Linked DNA regions of Homo sapiens: region 2 is linked to region 1. The links come from fine-mapping of genetic effects on gene expression. A gene starts in region 1. The other region holds a variant in brackets. All regions are shown on one strand. Distances are from middle to middle.

Region 1 (9,606 bases):
ATAAAAAAATTAGCCGGGCGTGGTAGTGGACACCTGTAATCCCAGCTACTCAGGAAGCTGAGGCAGGAGAATTGCTTGAACCCAGGAGATGGAGGTTGCAGTGAGCCAACATGGTCCCACTGCACTCCAGCCTGGGTGAGAGTGAGACTCCGTCTCAGAAAAAAAAAAAAAAAAATCTTTCCAGTAGGGCAATTGACTCATCCTGTTTTGCCCGGGACTTTCCCAGTTTTGGCACTGAAAGTCTCACATCCTGGGAAACCCCTCACTCCCAGGCAAACCTGGACACTTGGTCACCCTACTTTCCAAAGGCATCTATTTATCATATACAAACATATACATATATTAGTTGCATTACTTGGCATCTTGATGTTGTTTTAATTAAAAATATTTTTTGGGCCAGGTGCAGTGGCTCACACCTGTAATCCCAGCACTTTGGGAGGCCAAGGTGGGCAGCTCACTTGAGGTCAGGAGTTCAAGACCAGCCTGGCCAACATGGTGAAACCCCGTCTCTACTAAAAATACAAAAGTTAGCCAGGTGCAGTGGCGCATGCCTGTAATTCCAGCTACTCGAGAGGCTGAGGTAGGAGAATCTCTTGAACCCAGGAGGCAGAGGTTGCAGCGAGCTGAGATCGTGCCACTGCACTCCAGTCTGGGTGACAGAGCGAGACTCCATTTTAAAAAAAAGTTTTATATATATATATATATATGAGATGATTCAATATCAGCTTCATATTTATTTAACAAATATTTATGTAATTACCTAGCATGCACCAGGCATTATTTTGGAAGCTGAAGATAACAGCAGTAAACAAAATTGACAAAACCTCCTGACCTCATGGAATTGATATACTAGTAATTATATCTATTGCATTTGTTTAATCACCCCCAATCATCATTTTGGTTGCTTCCAGTATCTTCCTAGTGTGACAACGCTGTCCTGGATATCCGTGTGCATGTAGCTGTCTCACATGCATGAGGGTATCTATAGCAGCGCTGTCCAATAGATCTTCCTGCAACGATGGAAATGTTCTGTGTCTGATCTTTTCAATATGTAGCCACGAGTCACTTGTGGCTATTGAGCACTAGACATATGGCTAGTAAGACTGGGGAATAGAATTTTATATTTTATTTAGTTGTTTTGTTTTGTTTTGAGACAAAGTCTTGCTCTGTCGCGCAGGCTGGAGTGCAGTGGTGCAGTCTCAGCTCACTGCAAGCTCCGCCTCCTGGCTTCACGCCATTCTCCTGCCTCAGCCTCCCGAGTAGCTGGGTCTACAGGCACCCGCCACCAGGCCCGGCTAATTTTTTTGTATTTTTTAGTAGAGACAGGGTTTCACTGTGTTAGCCAGGATAGTCTCGATCTCCTGCCCTCATGATCCATCCACCTCGGCCTTCCAAAGTGCTGGGGTTACAGGTGTGAGCCACTGCGCCTGGCCTTTTTTTTTTTTTTTTTTTTTTTTGAGAAAGGGTCTCTGTCAGTCAGGCTGGAATGCAGTGGCACAATCATGTTTCACTGCAGCCTCGATCTCTAGAGCTTAAGCAATCCTCCCACTTCAGCCTCCTGAGTAGCTGGGACCACAAGTGTGCACCACCACACGTAGCTAGTTTTTTTTATGTAGAGATGGCGGGGTCTTGCTATGTTGATTAAGCTGGTTTCAAACTCCTGGCCTCAAGCGATCCTCCCATGTTGACCTCCCAAAGTGCTGGGATTACAGGTGTGAGCCACTGCACCTGGCATTAATTTTGTTTTTTTTTTTTTTTTTGAGACAGGGTCTTGCTCTTGCCCAGACTGGAGTGCAGTGGCAAGATTACAGCTCAATGATGCTTTGAACTCCTGGGCTCAAGCAACCCTCCTCTGAGTAGCTAAGACTACAGGCACATGCCACTGCACTCAGCTAATTTTATGTTTGTTTGTTTGTAGACAGCAGGGTCTTGGTACGTTGCCCAGGTTGATCTTGAACTCCTGGCCTCAAGTGATCCTCCCACTTATTTTTGTATTTTTTGTAGAGATGGGGGAGGGAGTTGGGGGTGGTGGGGTGTCTCACTGTGTTACCCAGGATGGTCTTAAACCCCTGGACAAAAGTGATCCACCCCCCTCAGCAACCCAAAGTGCTGGGATTACAGGCGTGAGCCACCATGCCCAGCCCTTTCTTAAATTTAAGCAAACAAATTTTAATAATGATGGCTGACTCCTGTAATCCCAGCACTTTGGGAGACCAAGACAGGAGGACCATTTGAGCTCAAGAGTTCGAGACCAGCCTTGGCAACATGGTGAAACCCTGTCTCTACAAAAAATTTAAAAATTAGCTGGGTGTGGTGTGCACGCCTATAGTCCCAGCTACTTGGGAGGCTGGGGTGGGAGGACGGCTTTTGCCCATGAGGTGGAGGTTGCAGTGAGCCAAGATTTTGCCATTGTCCTCCAGCTTGGGCAACAGAGCCAGACCCTGTCTCAAAAAAGAAAAAAAAAAGCCTAGGCAACATAGTGAGACCCCATCACTACAAAAAATAGAAAAAATAGCTAGGTGTGATGGCACATGCCTGTAGTCTCACCTACTCAGGAGGCTGAGGCAGGAGGATCACTTGAGCCTGGGAAGTCAAGGCTGCAGTGAGCTGTGATCACATCACTGCACTCCATCCTGGGTGACAGAGTGAGACTCTGTCTCAAAAAAAAAAAAAAAAAAAAAAAGGAAAGAAAGAAAGGGAGGGAAGGAGGGAAGGAACAAAGGAAGGAACGAAGGAAGGAAGGAAGGGAAGGAGGGAGGAAGGAAGGAAGGAAGGAAAAAAGGAAGGAAAAATTTAGGCTGGGCACAATGGCTCACGCCTGTAATCCCTAGCACTTTGGAGGCCGAGGTGGGCCGATCGTGAGGTCAGGAGATCGAGACCATCCTGGCTAACATGGTGAAACCCCGTCTCTACTAAAAATACAAAAAAAATTAGCCGGGCGTGGTGGTGGGCGCCTGTAGTCCCAGCTACTCAGGAGGTTGAGGCAGGAGAATGGCGTGAACCCAGGAGGCGGAGCTTGCAGTGAGCCGAGATTGTGCTACTGCACTCCAGCCTGGGCAACAGAGCGAGACTCTGTCTCAAAAAAAAAAAAAATTAATTTAAAAGAAATTTTTTTTGAGACTGAGTTTCACTCTTGTTGCCCAGGCTGGAGTCCAGTGGCTCGTTCTCCACTCACTGCAACCTCTGCCTCCTAGGTTCAAGCGATTCTCCTGCCTCAGCCTCCCAAGTAGCTGGGACTACAGGCATGCACCACCAGGCCCGGTTAATTTTTGTATTTTTAGTAGAAACAGGGTTTCACCATGTTGGTCAGGCTGGTCTTGAACTCCTAACCTCAGGTGATCCACCCGCCTCAGCCTCCTCCTGCTGAGATTACAGGCATGAGCCGCCATACCCAGCTTTTTTTTTTTTTTTTTTTAAAGAACATGATTCAACTGTATTGCTCTCTATAAGAAACTCACTTTATAGACTGGTTCTGAAAGGATGGAAAAAGATATTTCATGCAAATATCTTTTTGCGTGACCAAAGAAGAGGAGGGCTGGCAATACTAATATCAGAAAAATTACTTGTCCAGGCCGGGCACGGTAGCTCACACCTGTAATCCTAGCACTTTGGGAGGCCGAGGCGGGTGCATCACCTGAGGTCAGGAGTTTGAGACCAGCCTAAAAAATATGGTGAAATCCTGTCTCTACTAAAAATACAAAAATTAGCCAGGCGTGGTCGTGCATGCCTGTAGTCTCAGCTACTCAGGAGGCTGAAACAGGAGAATCACCTGAACCCAGGAGACAGAGGTTGCCGTGAGCTGAGATCACACCACTGCACTCCAGCCTGGACGACAGAGCAAGACCCTGTCTCAAAAAAAGAAAAAAGAAAAATTACTTGTCCAAAAGGTTACAAGAGATAAAGAAGGCATTGTATGTTAATAAAAAGTTCAATACAGCAAGAAGATATAACAATTATAAACATTTATATACCTAATAACAGACCATCAGAACATATGAAGCAAAAATTGGTAGAATTGAAGGAAGAAATAGACAATTCCACAATAATAGTTAGAGACTTCAATGCCCCACTCCCAAGAATAAATAGAACAAACAGGAGACAAGTAAGGAAATAAAGGACTTGAGCGACACAGTAAGACAACCAGGTCTAACACATGTACAGACACTCCCCAGCAACAACAGCATCCACATTCTTCTCAGGCACACATGGGATATCCTCCAGGATGGACCATATGTTAGGCCACAGATTAAGCCTCAAGAGATTTTAAAAGGTAGACATCAGCCAGCTGTGGTGGCTTAGGCCTGTAATCCCAGCACTTTGGGAGGCTGAGGCAGGAGGATTGCTCGTGCCCAGGAGTTTGCAACCAGCCTGGGCAACACAGCCAGACTTCATCTCTACAAAAAGAGACAGAAGAAAAGGAGAAAGAGAGAAAGATAAGAAGGAAAGAAAGAAGAAATAAAAGAGATCATACCAAATATCTTCTCCAAGCACAATTGGATAAGGCTAGAAATCAATATGGGGGGGTTAAAAAAAAAAAGAAATCAATATCAAAGGAAAACTGGAAAATTCACAAATTTGTGGAAATTTACACACTCTTAAAAGAACCAATGGATCAAAGAAGAAATCACAAGGGAAATTAGAAAATACTCAGAAACAGGCCAGGCTGGGTGGCTCACACCTGTAATCCCAGCATTTTGGGAGGCCGAGGTTGGCGGATCACTTGAGGTCAGGCGTTTGAGACCAGCCTGGCCAACATTGTGAAACCCTGTCTCTACTAAAAATACAAAAATTAGCCAGGCGTGGTGGCAGGCACCTGTAATCCCAGCTACTTGGGAGGCTGAGGCAAGGGAATTGCTTGAATCCAGGAGAGGGAGGCTGCAGCGAGCAGAGATTGCACCAATGCACTCCAGCCTGGGCGACAGAGTGAGACTCCATCTCAAAATAAATAAATTAATTAAATAAATAGAGAAAATATTGAGAAACAAATGAAAACAAAAACACAGCATGCCAAAATTTACTGGACACAGTGAAAGCAGTGCTCAGGGGAAATTTTATAGCTATAAGTGCTTCAAAATCATAGACAGAAAATTGCCAGGGCCTGGGGGTATGGGGATGGGAGGAGGGAAGAGGAAGTTATTGTTTAATGGGGACAGAATTTCAGTTTCAGTTTAGCAAGAAGACCAGAATTTTAGAGATAGCTGATGGTGATGATTGCACAATATGAAATGAATGTACTTTGTTGTTGGGGTTTTTTTGTTTTGTTTTGTTGTTGTTGTTGTTGTTTTTTGAGAGGGAGTCTCGCGCTGTCGCCCAGACTGGAGTGCAGTGGCAAGATCTTGGCTCACTGCAAGCTCCGCCTCCCAGGTTCAAGCCATTCTCCTGCCTCAGCCTCCCGAGTAGCTGGGACTACAGGCGCCCGCCACCACGCCCGGCTAATTTTTTGTATTTTTAGTAGAGACAGGGTTTCACCGTGTTAGCCAGGTTGTGTTTTTGTTTTTTTTTTTTTTTTTCAGACGGAGTTTCGTTCTTGTTGCCCAGGCTGGAGTTTAGTGACTGTTGGAGTGAGTGAGCCATCTTGGCCCACGGCAACCTTCGCCTCCCAGGTCAAAGGCTTTTCCTGCCTCAGCGTCCTGAGTAGCTGAGGCTACAGGCATGGGCAACCACGCCTGGCTAATTTTAGTATTGTTAGTAGAGACGGGGTTTCACCATGTTGGCCAGGCTGCTCTAGTACTCCTAGGCTCAAGCGATCCGCCCACCTCGGCCTCCCAAAGTGCTGAGATTACAGAAGTAAGCCACCTTGCCCAGCTCCTTTGTATAAATAAATGATATTGATTTTCTTCTTGCAGCTCAGGAATTAGATCTGTTATTAGAATTTGCTTAAATTTAAGAAATGGCTGGGTACTGTGGCTCACCGCTGTAATCCCAGCACTTCGGGTTGCCGAGGCAGGCGGATTGCTTGCGTCCAAGAGTTCGAGGCCAGCCTCGGCAACACAGTGAGACCCGCCCGCTCTCTGCACCACTCCTTCCCCCCCTCCTTTCCCCGTCTCTACAAAAAATACAAAAATAAATAAATTAGTCCGGCATGGTGGTGACTGCCTGTGGTCCAGCTACGCAGGAGGCTGAGGTGGGAGGATCGCTTGAACCCCGGTGGTCGAGGCTGCAGGGAGCCATGATCGCGCGCGCCACTGAACACCAGCCTGGGCGACAAAGCAAGACCTTGTCCCAAAATAGATTAAATAAATAAATAAATAAATTTAAGGAAAAAGCAACTTGATTCGAAGATAAATAGTGATAGTGCAAGTGGTGCCGAACTAACGATAAATTTGGAAAACAGCGGCCCACGCGCAGAGCCCGTCCCAATTCTGGCAGCCTTTGGATTTGGCTTCCACGTTTTCCAGATTTCCCTCGGCCTCTAGCTCGCTTGCGTCAGAGGGGCCCCGAGGGGCGGCCCACCCGCTAGCCCCGCCCCCAACCGCTCACCGCCCCGCGAGCCCCGCCCCCTCGGCCTCCTCCTCATCGGCCGCCGTTGCGCGGCGCAGAGCGGCAGCAAGATGGCGGCGCAACAGCGGGACTGCGGGGGTGCTGCGCAGCTGGCGGGGCCGGCGGCGGAGGCTGACCCCCTAGGACGCTTCACGTGTCCCGTGTGCTTAGAGGTGTACGAGAAGCCGGTACAGGTGCCCTGCGGACACGTGTAAGCGGCGAGCCCGGGCCTGGTCGGGGGGCGCTTAACTGGGAAGGGAATGGAGCCGAGGAGCGAGATGGGTCTCAGGGCGGGAGCCAGAGGACCCACCCAGAGGGGCCTCCCGGGGGTGTCCCCCGGGGCTCCTAAGGGCCGTGAAAGCTGCCGGGGCGCTCTTCTGTCCCGCCCCGCTCACTCCTAAGTATCCCGTTCCTCCGCCCGTCTTAGCGGGGCAGCTGCTGTCTGTTGAGCGCCTGCGATGTTCCAGGCGGCCTGTCAGTCTCCTTCCCACACGTGATAGTGGACTCGTGCCCTGCGGGGACTTTAGGCTCCGAAGTCCGCCCTTGGAGAGCCGACGTTTCCTTTCTAGTCCACGTCGCTCTTAAAGCATAGGACATTTGGCGTCGTGTCTAGCTGTGGCGAGTTATTCTACTGTGCACTAAAGTCGGGAGAAACGCTGAACTAGACTAAAACAACAAAAGGGAAGTCTTTATGGGGATCTGGCCAGTTTGCCCTTAGCTGTGAAAGGGGGGTGGGAGTTGGCAGATGGGATTGTTAGCATTCTACTTCCTGTGTAGGAGGTTTGTTTCTTTCAGTTTTCAATTAAGCCTTCATGACCTGAATATTGTGAATAGAGTGGTTATAATGATTAAAGCAGATATGTGTATAAATGTCCAGTCCAGGTCCTGGGCTGTGGCCGGGGCTTTCGAGGTTGGTCAGGTTGGTCGATTTGAATCTAAGCCTTGTTCCATCAGACGCACAAACACATCTGAGTTGAAAGAATTGTAGACAACGTGGCCACCTGCTTCTTGCCTCAGAATTGGCTTTTCCTCTGGCCCCTCTCAGTGCTTATCGTGGGATCACCTTGGCATTGGTCTTGGCAGCGGGCACAGTAGCCATTGCACTCCATGGGCATTATTCTATAGCCACCCTGCAGCGGGGGAGGGTTGGCAGCCATTTTACAGGTGAATACACTGAGGGTCCGAGGCTCTCTTAGGGAAGGGTCACCGTGGCCTAGCTCTTCCCAGATGTACTGCAGGTGACCATTTCAGTAGTCCAGAGAACAGTGCTTGGCACCTAGCTGGCTGCTTTTTGCTTCATCATGTTGCTTTAGGCTATTCATCTTTGCAATTCGGTTAGCCTGGAACTCTTCCCCCCACCCCTCCCTTTTCAGGCTTCAAGTCCCAGGTTAAGTTACCTCACCAAATACCATCCCCATCTAAATTACTTCCCCCACTTCCTTTCTGGGACTTAACTTCCTTCTCCTTGCTTGCACAGAGCAAAACTTAACAGCTCATGACGGAGTGGCCATATCTTTATTGCCCCTGAACTGACTGGAATGGCCTCTGTGTGCCAGATTTTGGGGTAGACTCTGCCTTCAGAGTTTACAGTCCAGTGAATTGATTATAAATAAGTACCAATGACTGGTCAAACTATTGTAAAAATTCATTCTGCAAGTGGGAGGGTATTTCAGGGATCACACCTCTGTGCGTGGGGTGAGTGATCAGGTAATGGTTGAATGAACTAATAAGTCGTGTAAGCAAGCTTCACGAGAGTTGAAGTGGTCTTTAGCTTTTTCATTGAATCCACTTATCCTTGGATCAGATTTACCTGATTTTGGATTAATTCAGTGGATTTCATTTACTATTAACATTTGTAAAAAGGCTAGACCCAGCACAGTTTGCTAAATGAAGAGCAGCAAAATTTGAGATTTTCTTGAGCTTGGTGAACCTTTCCTAGGTCAGAGGGCAAGGAACAGTACTGGTTTTCAAACCTTGGCTCTTCTCTATCCTCGCTGTCCTAGCCCCACGTGATCAGCAGTTCAGTGCAAATTGAAGACAGATGGAAGCACCTCTGTGAGGGCAGCCCAAATCCCCGCTAGCTCCAACCGACTGCTTTCTCCTGTGCCTAGTTGATTTTTACCTTTTGTGCTTGGAAAGTTGAGCATCACTGCAACTCTGGCTGGGGCATTGGATTTTTATAAAACTTTATTTCAAGCCCTGAATGACTGTGTTCTCCAATCTGGTAGAATACAGCTGGAGAAAGGCAGCTGGCTGGGTGCCCAAGAGAAGGGAATTTCTTCCTAGCACTGTGACGGAGTGGAGCATCGGAAGGCTGAACTAGAAAAGGGCGCATAAGTAGGAAATAGAAACTGAAAAGCCATCCCAGGATATTTGAGTTGTTCAAAAGCAGGCTGGTAGTTTGGGCATGTCTCAGGCACAAAGTGACTCGTGAACATTTGATAGATGAGCTGTACCTGTGTGTGTGCTTGAGAAGAGACTTCGAGCTGCTTTTATCTGCATGCTGGGTTTGGTTCCATTATACTCACTGGACCCTCTGTGCTCTCTTGGGTTCCTCTTGTCATCTGCCTTTGTGAACAGGCAACACAAGTGATGGCCACAGGCCCTGCCTGTCTCTACTGCCTCATCACTTGCCCTTCTCACCATGGTCTACCGCATCATGGCCCCCAAGGTCTGCCTGCCTTCCTTTCCAGTCCTCATTTGTGTGTGGCGTGATCTTGGTGTGGAGCTCTGCACCCAGATCTGTGTGGCTGTCCTCGTAATCAGGTCCCACCCAGCTCAAATGCCAACTCCTCAGAAGCAGCTTTCTATGATCACCCCAGCTGGTCTGTTTGCCATATTTCCTTCATATTTTTAATCACTATCTGAAATTAACATTTGTGTTTCCCTTCACTCTAGAATGTAAGCATCATGAGAACAGGGCTTTGTCAAGTTTCCATTGCCCTCAGTGGTGAATGAATAGACTCCCTCACCTTCTCTGTACCTGGTCTGGAATTTTGCCTAACAGCATTAACATCTAACTTAATGACAAGGAGGAAGGAGATTCTTAGAGGCAGTAGAAAATGGTCAAGTGTTCAGAAGATGGCCTTTCATTATATATCTTTAGTTCTTTCTGGCAGATTTGGT
Region 2 (9,727 bases), 51 kb before region 1:
GGATTTCTTTCTCTTTTCTGCTTTTTCTGGATAATTTATTATGTACTTCTTACTGCAGTTTTCTTCAAATTTGTCTATTTATATTTGTCTATTTGTCTGTTTATAAGATATTGTTCCTGCAACCTGGGTACTTCCATCTCTCAGTCAGCAAGAGCTCATTGCTCTTGGTCACTGTTATTTGTCCTCCAAACTCAGGTTTCAGGGCAAGAGAGAAGCAGCAAAAGTCCTTTACAGAAAGTATAATAGCCTAGGCTGGGCGCGGTGGCTCACACCTGTAATCTCAGCACTTTGGGAGGCCGAGGCTGGCGGATCATGAGGTCAGGAGTTTGAGACCAGCCTGGCAAACATGGTGAAACCCCATCTCTACTAAAAATACAAAATTAGCCGGGCGTGGTGATATGCGCCTGTAATTCCAGCTACTCAGGAGGCTGAGGCAGGAGAATCGCTTGAACCCGGGAGGCGGAGGTTGCAGTGCAGTGAGCTGAGATCATGCCATTTGCACCCCAGCCTGGGCAAAAAGAGCGAAAGTCCATCTCAAAAAAAAAAAGTATAATAGCCTTTAGTGTGGCCACTGGGGAAAAGGGACACATTTGATCAAACCTGAAACAAGTGTAGGCATGGAAGATTGGATTTCAGTGGGTGAAACAGGGAGGTGACTATTTCAGCCACAGGTTGGGAGGAAAATGAAAGGATGCCCTGGGGTGACAACTCAGTTTTCTCTAAGCAGTTAGGCCCAGGCTGGCCCTGCAGCTAGTGGAGATGGCCTATTCAGGTGGGTTACAGTTCCTGCCCTGTAAACTCAATTTAGTGGTCAAGAGCATGGGCTTTGGGGTCTGAACCAGATTTGAGACTTGGATCCATTACTTCCTGCCTTGTCAACTTGGACCAATTACTTCATCTCTCTATACCTCAGTTTCCTTGTCTATAAACTGGAGACAACAATACCTACTTTGTAAGACCTTTGCAAGGATTTAAATTTAGCAGGATAATGCATGTAAAATGATTAGCATGTTGTCTGGCATAGAAATGTTTGATGATTGGAAACATTTACTCTTGGCCAGGCATGGTGGCTCACGCCTATAATCCCAGCACTTTGGGAGGCTGAGGCGGGTGGATCACTTGAGGTCAGCAGTTTGAGACCAGCCTGGCCAACTTGGCGAAACCCCGTCTCTACTAAAAATACAAAAATTAGCCGGGCATGGTAGCACACGCCTGTAATCCCAGCTACTAGGGAGGCTGAGGCAGGACAATTGCTTGAACCCGGGAGGCAGAGGTTGCAGTGAGCCAAGATCACGCCACAGCACTCCATCTCAAAAAAAAAAAAAACTCTCAAATTCATGCTTGTTAAAGGAATAAACTTAAAGCCTAAAGAATGTACTGTACATGTCTATATCATCCTTTTCAAGTAGTTATGGTGAGAACCAAGATGAAGAAAATGAAAGTAAAGTAATAAATGTCCTAAGAATCCACTTAGATAAGATTTAAACTTTAGGCTGGGTGCAGTGGCTCACACCTGTAATCCTAGCACTTTGGGAGGCAAAGGCAGGAGGATTGCTTGAGACCAGGAGTTTGAGACCAGCCTGGGCAACATAGCAAGACCTCATCTTTAACTAAAAAATTTTAAAAAGTAGCCAGGCATGGTGGTGCATACCTGTAGTTCTAGCTACTTGGGAGGTTAAGGTGGGAGGATCACTGGAGCCCAGGAGGTTGAGGTTGCATTGAGCCACAATCACACCACTGCACTCCAGCATGCGAGACAGAGTGAGACTTTGTCTCAAAAAAAAAAAAAAAAGATGTAAACTTTACATAAAGCTGTACTTTGCCAAGACTAACATGCCTTTGGAGATGGAGAGGAACCAAAAGCCACAGCAAGCAGCTGGCAGGCTAAGCCGGGGCATGTGGCCTCCTGATAGTCCCTACCTCTGCGTTCCTCTTGCTCAGAGAGCAGTGTTTCCATGCATGGGAGGTCCTTCATAGCTGCCCTCCTTTCCCTGAGGGAGAGGCAGAAACACCTTGTCTGTCCCCCTAGTCCTGGTATGATCAATGCAGCCCTGTCCCAAGGAGGGGCACCTTGGGAGTCAGGTTGCCCTTAAACTAATCTGTGAATACTTCTGTACAGCCTCTTGGCATTCAGTTTTGTTCTGCTGTCATTACTAAAGCCCTTCCTGATACCTCGTCCGTCCTCTCTTTTCTGGCTACTAAGAAAGGTAACGTACAAAGCTTTATCCTTTCCTAGATGCATAGAATCCCGCAGCTGTGGCAGCACGCCCATGCTGGGTCTCTGACGAGCATGGTGTTGCTCGTGTCTTTTGTGGCTGAGGGGAATACTGCATTTGTACTGGATGTGTTACACAGTCTGCATTAGCTTCATCCAAGAAGCTTCAGCTTGAAGAGCCAGATGTTTTCACCTAAGACTTAGTTTGTTGCTATCAACAGGTGCTTGTACTATTTGGCAGAGCGGTAAACATTTTCCCTCTTTCCTACCTCCTGAATTTCTTCCGGGATCATAAAATCACACCGAAGATGATGTTCATCATGTGGTTTAGTGGTAAGTCAAATCTTGGATAAATGGGGTGGGGAAGTACCTGTTAAAAGCACGCCCCATACAGGGAGAGCTGTGGTTCTCTGCTAGCGCCCTTGGCAAAACCACAAGTAATCAATACTCCCGTTTAATGGCACCCACTGCAATCAAGATGGTGCCCCTCACCATGGTGCTATGAAGTGGGTGAGGCTTGGTTGGAAGAGGGCAAACAACATGCCCAGGGTCACGTGACCACTGGAGGCAGAGCCGGGATTTCTGCCACTCTCTTCTGAACACCATAGTGCAGTCCGGGATGCAGCTGGGCGTGCTTCAGCGCCTCCCTGGGGGTCTTCTAGGCTGAAGTAATAATGGTCTCAAGGTAGAAAAGGTGAAAGTTGAAACTGTTTCATACCTTATGTTAGTTTTGGATATTTTTCCTTTTAGTCACAAAGTTCTAGTAGTTTAATTTGAATGTTTCAGTTGCTATTTAATCACTTTTTAAAGGACGGAAATGATTTCATACATCTTTGCTTCTAAAGAACTGGATCCATAGGCATCCTTAAATTTATTTTTGAGCAATACATACTGTTCTTTATGCTTTCTTGCTTAAATATTATAATCAAAGTATTTTCCGTGTGGGTTGGGTTATAGCAACACACTATAATGTTCTCTATCCAAAGGCATATCTGCAAGTTTGTCTCAGATTTCTCTTCTTTCAAAAGGCCATGTTTAAAAATGTATATGTTTCATATATATGTACGTATGTGTATATATACATATACATTTATATGTGGTGAGAAAAACTCATTTTTTTCCTAATCTCTTTTGCCAGTGAGGCAAACTACTTTGTAAATGGTTGCAGAAGTGTGTCAGAGGTTTTTGAAGTGATGTGGGCTATTTGGGAAGGGGGGCATGAGGATAAGAGAGCGTTATGGGGAAGGTTGGAGTGTATTTGAAATGGCGGGGGCTGTCGGCTCCTGTTCTCTCCCAGGCTCCCCGGGCTCTTGCTCTGTGGGTTTCCATCCAGGCTTTCCTGGATCCTCAACGAGGGGCACTGAACAAGCCTCTGCTACCGGCCCCTCCCATCATCATTTAAGCAATCAGAGCTTCTCCTCCTTCCCACAAAACACCAGCAACTTCAGCCAGAGTTCCTCCTCA[T/C]GTCCCCCGCAGCTGTGTCCGCACCTCTTTTGCCATGGCCAGACCCTTGCGAGTGAGCCGTGCTCGCTCATTTTCTCCACTTCTTCACCGCCTGTCCACGGGGCTGGAATTGGCCTTGGCAGGTCACCAGTGACCTCCCGCAGCCAGACCTGGAGGGGAGGCGTCCGCCCCCGTCCTAGCCTACCTCCTTCCCACTGCCCCTACCTTCTGGCGAGGACCACTTCACTCTCTTCCCCGGCCTCTGGGCCATGCTCCTCCTTTCTCTCCTTTGACGTCTCCTTGGGCTCGTCCCCCTTCGCTGACCCCTCAAATAGTGGCTTCTTCAGGACTTGGCCCCAGCCCCACTTCTGTTCACGTGTTCTGCACTTCACTGAGTGCGCTCACCCGTCCACTGGCCTTCACTTCCACCTAGTCCCAAAGCTGTTCCCGCGAACCCAGACCTCCCTCTGGGATCCGTACTCCTGTTTCCAGCTGCCTGTTTGGATGCCGTGGGGATGCTGTCATCCCTATGCCTTTGCATCCCCCTTGCCCAAGAAATCCTACTTTGAATTGCCCGGTGGCCTGGCTAGCCGGTACTAAGCACTTGCTGGGTACACACCCTGTTAAAGCACATTACATGTCCCGTGTCACTGAATCCTCTGGCCCGTGACAGGTTTAGAGAGGCTGAGAGTCCCTTGTCCTCACCATGTCTCTGTATTATGTGCCCTTTGCTCTTGCCCTGCCGTCTCCCCATCTGGGTCTGGCCTGCAGCAGCCTGGCTGCCCTACCCCATGGTGATGTGAGCCTCCCCGCTTTCCTGTCTGGGGAAGGTCCTGGTGCTGTCTGCACCATGCCCCCCCCCACCCCCCACCCCCCTCCCCCCACCATCTCTTCCAGGTAGCATTTCACACCCCTTATTTGCTGTGCCTCCTCCCAGCTGCTCTAGGAGCTCCCCAAGGGTGGGGCTAGGACTGCCTGTCCCCTCCGTATGGCACCAAGGAAGCCAGGAAACTTCTAACAGAGGAATGTGCTGTTTTCCAGCTCAGTCCATGCCCCTCAGTTGTGCCCTAGTAGCGTCACAGAGGACCAGCCAGCCTGTCATTACCACCTAAGCAGCCCACAGCCCCATCAGTGCCACCAGGGGCCTCCACAGGGACAGCATCTCGAGATAGGAGGGGTACTGGACACATTGCATCTTGTGCTGTTGTGGGTATTAGTTGAGTGGCCCTGGGCGGGCCATGCTGCTCTTGGCCTCCATCCCTCATCTGTGTGTTGTGGACAAGAGTAGCGCTGCTCGGTGAGGATTCCTGTGAAGATCCAGTGATGCTCTGCACACTGAGCACCTGCCCAGGCCTGGCGCACACACAGGGAGGGCTCAGCCCACAGCAGCTGTCCTGCAGTTTCCAAGACACGAGCATCAGGCTTGCTAAGTCCTCCCGCACCCGCATCTGGGGCTCTGTAGCTGGGGCAGGCCATCTCATTTGATCTGCCAATGTTGGAATGGAGGTGAGTCTGTGGTCCCATCTCTGCCACCTGCTCTTTACACCCCAAAGCCTCACAGGGTGAGCACACACTCTTCAGCAGGGCCATTAGAATAGTCAGCTGGTCGTGGTGCTGGGCCGGCTGGATTTCCAGGGAAGCCAGCCCATGAAGCTGCTGCCTCTTCACTGTGTCCTCTCACACTGTTTGCTGTCACCCAGGCCTGCGGGGAGCCATCCCCTATGCCCTGAGCCTACACCTGGACCTGGAGCCCATGGAGAAGCGGCAGCTCATCGGCACCACCACCATCGTCATCGTGCTCTTCACCATCCTGCTGCTGGGCGGCAGCACCATGCCCCTCATTCGCCTCATGGACATCGAGGACGCCAAGGCACACCGCAGGAACAAGAAGGACGTCAACCTCAGCAAGACTGAGAAGATGGTTAGTACCATGCGCCTGTGGGGGTGGGGCAGGGGGCTGGCCTGCTACGCAGCTGGTGGTCCCCACTGTCAGGAAATGGGGAGATGAGCCTTGCTTTCTTGCTTTGAGGATGCCCAGCACCTCCACACACACGACACACACACACACACACACACACACACACACACACACACACGACACACACACACACACGACACACACACACACGACACACACACACACGACACACACACACACACACACACACACACACACACACACACACACACACCCCCCGGTCATCCCCCCTGAGAAGGAGGTGACGGAACTTGAGTTCTGAAGCATGGCTCTTGGGGTGGGGGTGTCTGGTGGCCTTGTGACCTGCCGCAGCCATGGGGGCTGTGGACGACCCCATCTGCTCCCTCTCTGAAGCTCCATGGGGCACCACAGGAGTCTGGACCTGTGCCACAACCACAGCAGTGCCTCTGCCCTGCCAGCAGCTGAGACACCTGTCAGGGCCCAGGTTTGAGGGTTTCAAAATCCTGTCATTCCCCAGTATGGTTTTACTAAAAACCACCTGTTGGGGGCCTGAGGAGGGGAGGATGTCTTGCGGTGGCTGTGAGGGCCGTGAGAGGGGTACTCCCCCAAGGACAGACATGGTGTGGGGCTGGAGGTACCCAGGCCCCAGCTGTAGGGAGAGCTGAGGTTCTGCAGCCTGCCCACCTCTTCTTCCTACAAGCCACCGCCCCTGCCACCAGGCTGCCTTCCCGCCCTGTCTTCACCCTCAGGACCCCTGTGCAAAGCTAGGCCCTCTGACCGAAGCAGAGGCTGCTGTAGGCTCCAGCCCAGAGCATCCCCTGCTGATCACCATGCATTTCTGGACATGCATCTCTTTCTAGTTCCCGTATTCTAGGCCTCAGTAACTTTAATCAGTCATCAGAGGCCCAGGAGTCCTCACGTGGCCATCCACGGCTAACACTGGAGTCAGGGCTGGCAAGACCATGGCCTCCAATCTCCATGCTCAGCTGGGCCCCTCACCCAGTGCAGTGCTGCTGGGAGGAAACTTCCAGATGGCTGTGAGGCCTGGCTCTGCAGAACTTCCACCACACTAAGAGGCCCTTTGCCCCCACCCCCTATCTACCAACTTTTTTGTTTTTCACAAAAGCTCTAGCTTAGGCCTTTCTGGGTATCAGAATCGGTGGGGGGCTTGCTACACACAGGCTGCTGGGTCTCACACCAGCATCTCATAGGTATGGTATGGGGTCCGAAAGAATTTGTGTTTCTTCTTATTTATTTTTGAGACAGGGTCTCACTCTATTGCACAGGCTGAAGTGCAGTGGCGTGATCGTGGCCCACTGCAGCCCAGACCTCTTGGGCTCAAGCGATCCTCCCACCTCAGCCTCTGGAGTAGTTGGGACTCCAGACAGGCGTGACCCCACCCAGTTAATTTTTTCTTATTTTTAGTAGAGATGGGGTCTCACCATGTGGTCCAGGCTAAGAATTTGCGTTTCTAACAAGTTGCCAGGTGGTGCTGCTGCAGCTGATCCTGTGAACACGCTTGGCGAAGCACAGCACTAGCAGAAACAGGACAGCTCCTCTGAGGATGAACCGCTGAGTTTCTGGAATGTTTTCTGTGGCAGTCAGTGTGCTTGCGTTTTCCTTGGATGATCTCAGATTGTCCCCATAGCCTGCCAGAAACTGGCGCTTTCATTATACCCACTTTGCAGATGAGAATGCCGAGGCACCAAGAGAATCAGACAGCTGTGGGCACAGACTCCCGAGCCTGTCCTCTTTACTACCACGCTGATCAGCAGTCCTCAAAATGGGCTCCCCAGACTAGCAGCATCACTGGAAACCTGTTAGATCTGCAGATTCCCAAGCCCATTCAGACCTACTGAATTAGCACCTCTGCAGGTGGCTGCGGTGGGCTCAGTATTTTGTGGTTTCACAGGCCCCCCAGGTAGATTCTAATACAGACCAGTGTTTGACAACCACTGCTTCACAGCATCTAAATGCCCTCCCCTCCCCGGCCATCCTCTGCCCTCCCTGCACCTGCCCCGTCCCCCTCCCCACCACCTGCAGTGAAGCTGCAGAGCACACTTCACTGTGGCCCCACTGAGACTCCTCCAGCAGAGCAGGCGCTGCACTCAGAGCCTGTCTGCTTTGCTCCTACCTATGACCCGAGTCCCGCCTCTTTACCTCCGTCTCTCCCCTCCACATGGGGTCCTTTTCTTCGTCCCTCCCCAATTCCTACAGGATGTGTTCCTCTCCCCTCTCCTCTCTTGACTTGATTGGCAAAAGCCTGTCCACGGTGGAGTCCTAGCTAATAGAGCCACAGGCAAAGAGACAAAAAGCCTCCCTGTGCGATTTGCTGCTAATGAAAAGCCCAGAACAGCAGTTCTGGTCCTGGTTGCATGATAGAATCACCCAAAAGCTTGAAAAGCTTAAAGACCAAGCCCCAGCCTGGCCCAGTCCTTCTGTTTTAGCTGTCCTAGGTGGGGTCCTGGGCATCCATTGTGCCCTGATGGACGTTCCTGCCTCCCTGCAGGCTCCCAGGAGGCCGTCTGCTGCCCGTCACCCTGCATTGATGGTCAAGTGGAGTTAGGGTTGGGGACACTGGCGGCCTGGGTGGTGTGGGGGCTTCCAGGAGGTGCCCCCCGATGGTGCCAGCTGGTGGCCGTCGGGCCGCCTTTCCTCCCTGCTCAGGGCAACACTGTGGAGTCGGAGCACCTGTCGGAGCTCACGGAGGAGGAGTACGAGGCCCACTACATCAGGCGGCAGGACCTTAAGGGCTTCGTGTGGCTGGACGCCAAGTACCTGAACCCCTTCTTCACTCGGAGGCTGACGCAGGAGGTGGGATACCGGCCAGGCCACACTTTCTGGGGGTCCCTTGCCTGCCTCCTTCAGGACCTGCGGTGGCCCAGGGTGGGGTGGAGGAAGAGTGGGGAGGCAGGAAAGCTCACGTGGGCCCGCCAGGCCGCCGCCTCCCGATCTGGAGGCTGGACGTGCTTGTGGAACTCGGCATCTGCTGTTTTTCCTTCGCTGCCACATTTAGTGCGAGGTTAATAATAGATTTGTTAACACAGTTTGGTTTTCCTGGATGATAGACTCGGGGTATTGATCAGCTACTGAATCGGAGCTGAGGAATTTCAGACATACCAGGGCCTCAAGCTGTGGCCCAAGTCTGCCCCCAGCTCAGGGCTCTGGTTCTGTCCCTCGGGGCACTGCTGGCCTCTCTTTAGTTGGAGGCCTTGGGTAGGGGTGGGGCTCTTCCTGCTGCTGCCCGCTTTGTTTCCGAGCAGGCCCATTTTCCACTCTCCGGCAGGCCTGAGAGCTGCCGGTGTGTGCGCTCTTCCAGGAGCCAGGCAGCTCCAGTGACTGTGACCACGACCGCTTCCTTCTCCAGCATCCTGTGCAGTGGATGCAGCTGTGTCCCTGACAGCTGAGGAGATGGAGGCCTAAGGGGGTGCAGTAACCCCGCAAGGTCACAGCCAATATGGGCATAACTGGGAGCAGAGCTAACTGTGTCTGACTCCAGAGACCACATGTTCAGCCTCAAGCCATGCTCCCTCCTCCTTTCTGAATGACACCTCCCGTGACCTCCACCCCCACAAAGAACAATCCCAGCTCAGTTTGTTCAACTGAAACTGAAGTTGCCTGTGGCCATCACCCTGCCTCCCACCTCCTCCCTAGACACCCCACACAAAACACCCAGTAGCATCCCCTCCCTTCCATGGCCCTGCCCCTGACGCCCTGACGGCTTGGTTGTGTCTCTCGACCCAGGACCTGCACCACGGGCGCATCCAGATGAAAACTCTCACCAACAAGTGGTACGAGGAGGTACGCCAGGGCCCCTCCGGCTCCGAGGACGACGAGCAGGAGCTGCTCTGACGCCAGGTGCCAAGGCTTCAGGCAGGCAGGCCCAGGATGGGCGTTTGCTGCGCACAGACACTCAGCAGGGGCCTCGCAGAGATGCGTGCATCCAGCAGCCCCTTCAAGACATAAGAGGGCGGGGCGAGGTACTGGCTGCAGAGTCGCCTTAGTCCAGAACCTGACAGGCCTCTGGAGCCAGGCGACTTCTTGGGAAACTGTCATCTCCCGACTCCTCCCTGAGCCAGCCTCCGCTCAGTGTGGCTCCTCAGCCCACAGAGGGGAGGGAGCATGGGGCC

Evidence for each region. PIP is the estimated chance that this variant, and not a neighbour inherited with it, causes the effect.
Region 2: its variant is fine-mapped to the expression of RNF114 in whole blood (INTERVAL, PIP above 0.99). The same link has a PIP of 0.9 or more in lung.

What each region holds. Positions count from the first base shown.
Region 1 is chr20:49,929,862-49,939,467 of GRCh38, forward strand. It overlaps RNF114 (ring finger protein 114), which reads left to right and starts at 6,536. Exons shown (of 6, transcript NM_018683.4): 1 at 6,536-6,691. The coding sequence starts at 6,552. RefSeq lists silencers at 4,098-4,298, 5,737-5,816, 6,383-6,572, 7,031-7,325, 7,611-7,905 and 1 more and an enhancer at 6,185-6,790.
Region 2 is chr20:49,878,488-49,888,214 of GRCh38, forward strand. It overlaps SLC9A8 (solute carrier family 9 member A8), which reads left to right. Exons shown (of 16, transcript NM_015266.3): 13 at 2,437-2,548; 14 at 5,359-5,579; 15 at 8,265-8,411; 16 at 9,342-9,727. The coding sequence ends at 9,449. Among named protein-coding and RNA genes, the nearest start is that of MIR12122, 19 kb to the left of the region's middle. RefSeq lists an enhancer at 9,581-9,727. The variant T/C (reference allele first, on the strand shown) is at 3,680.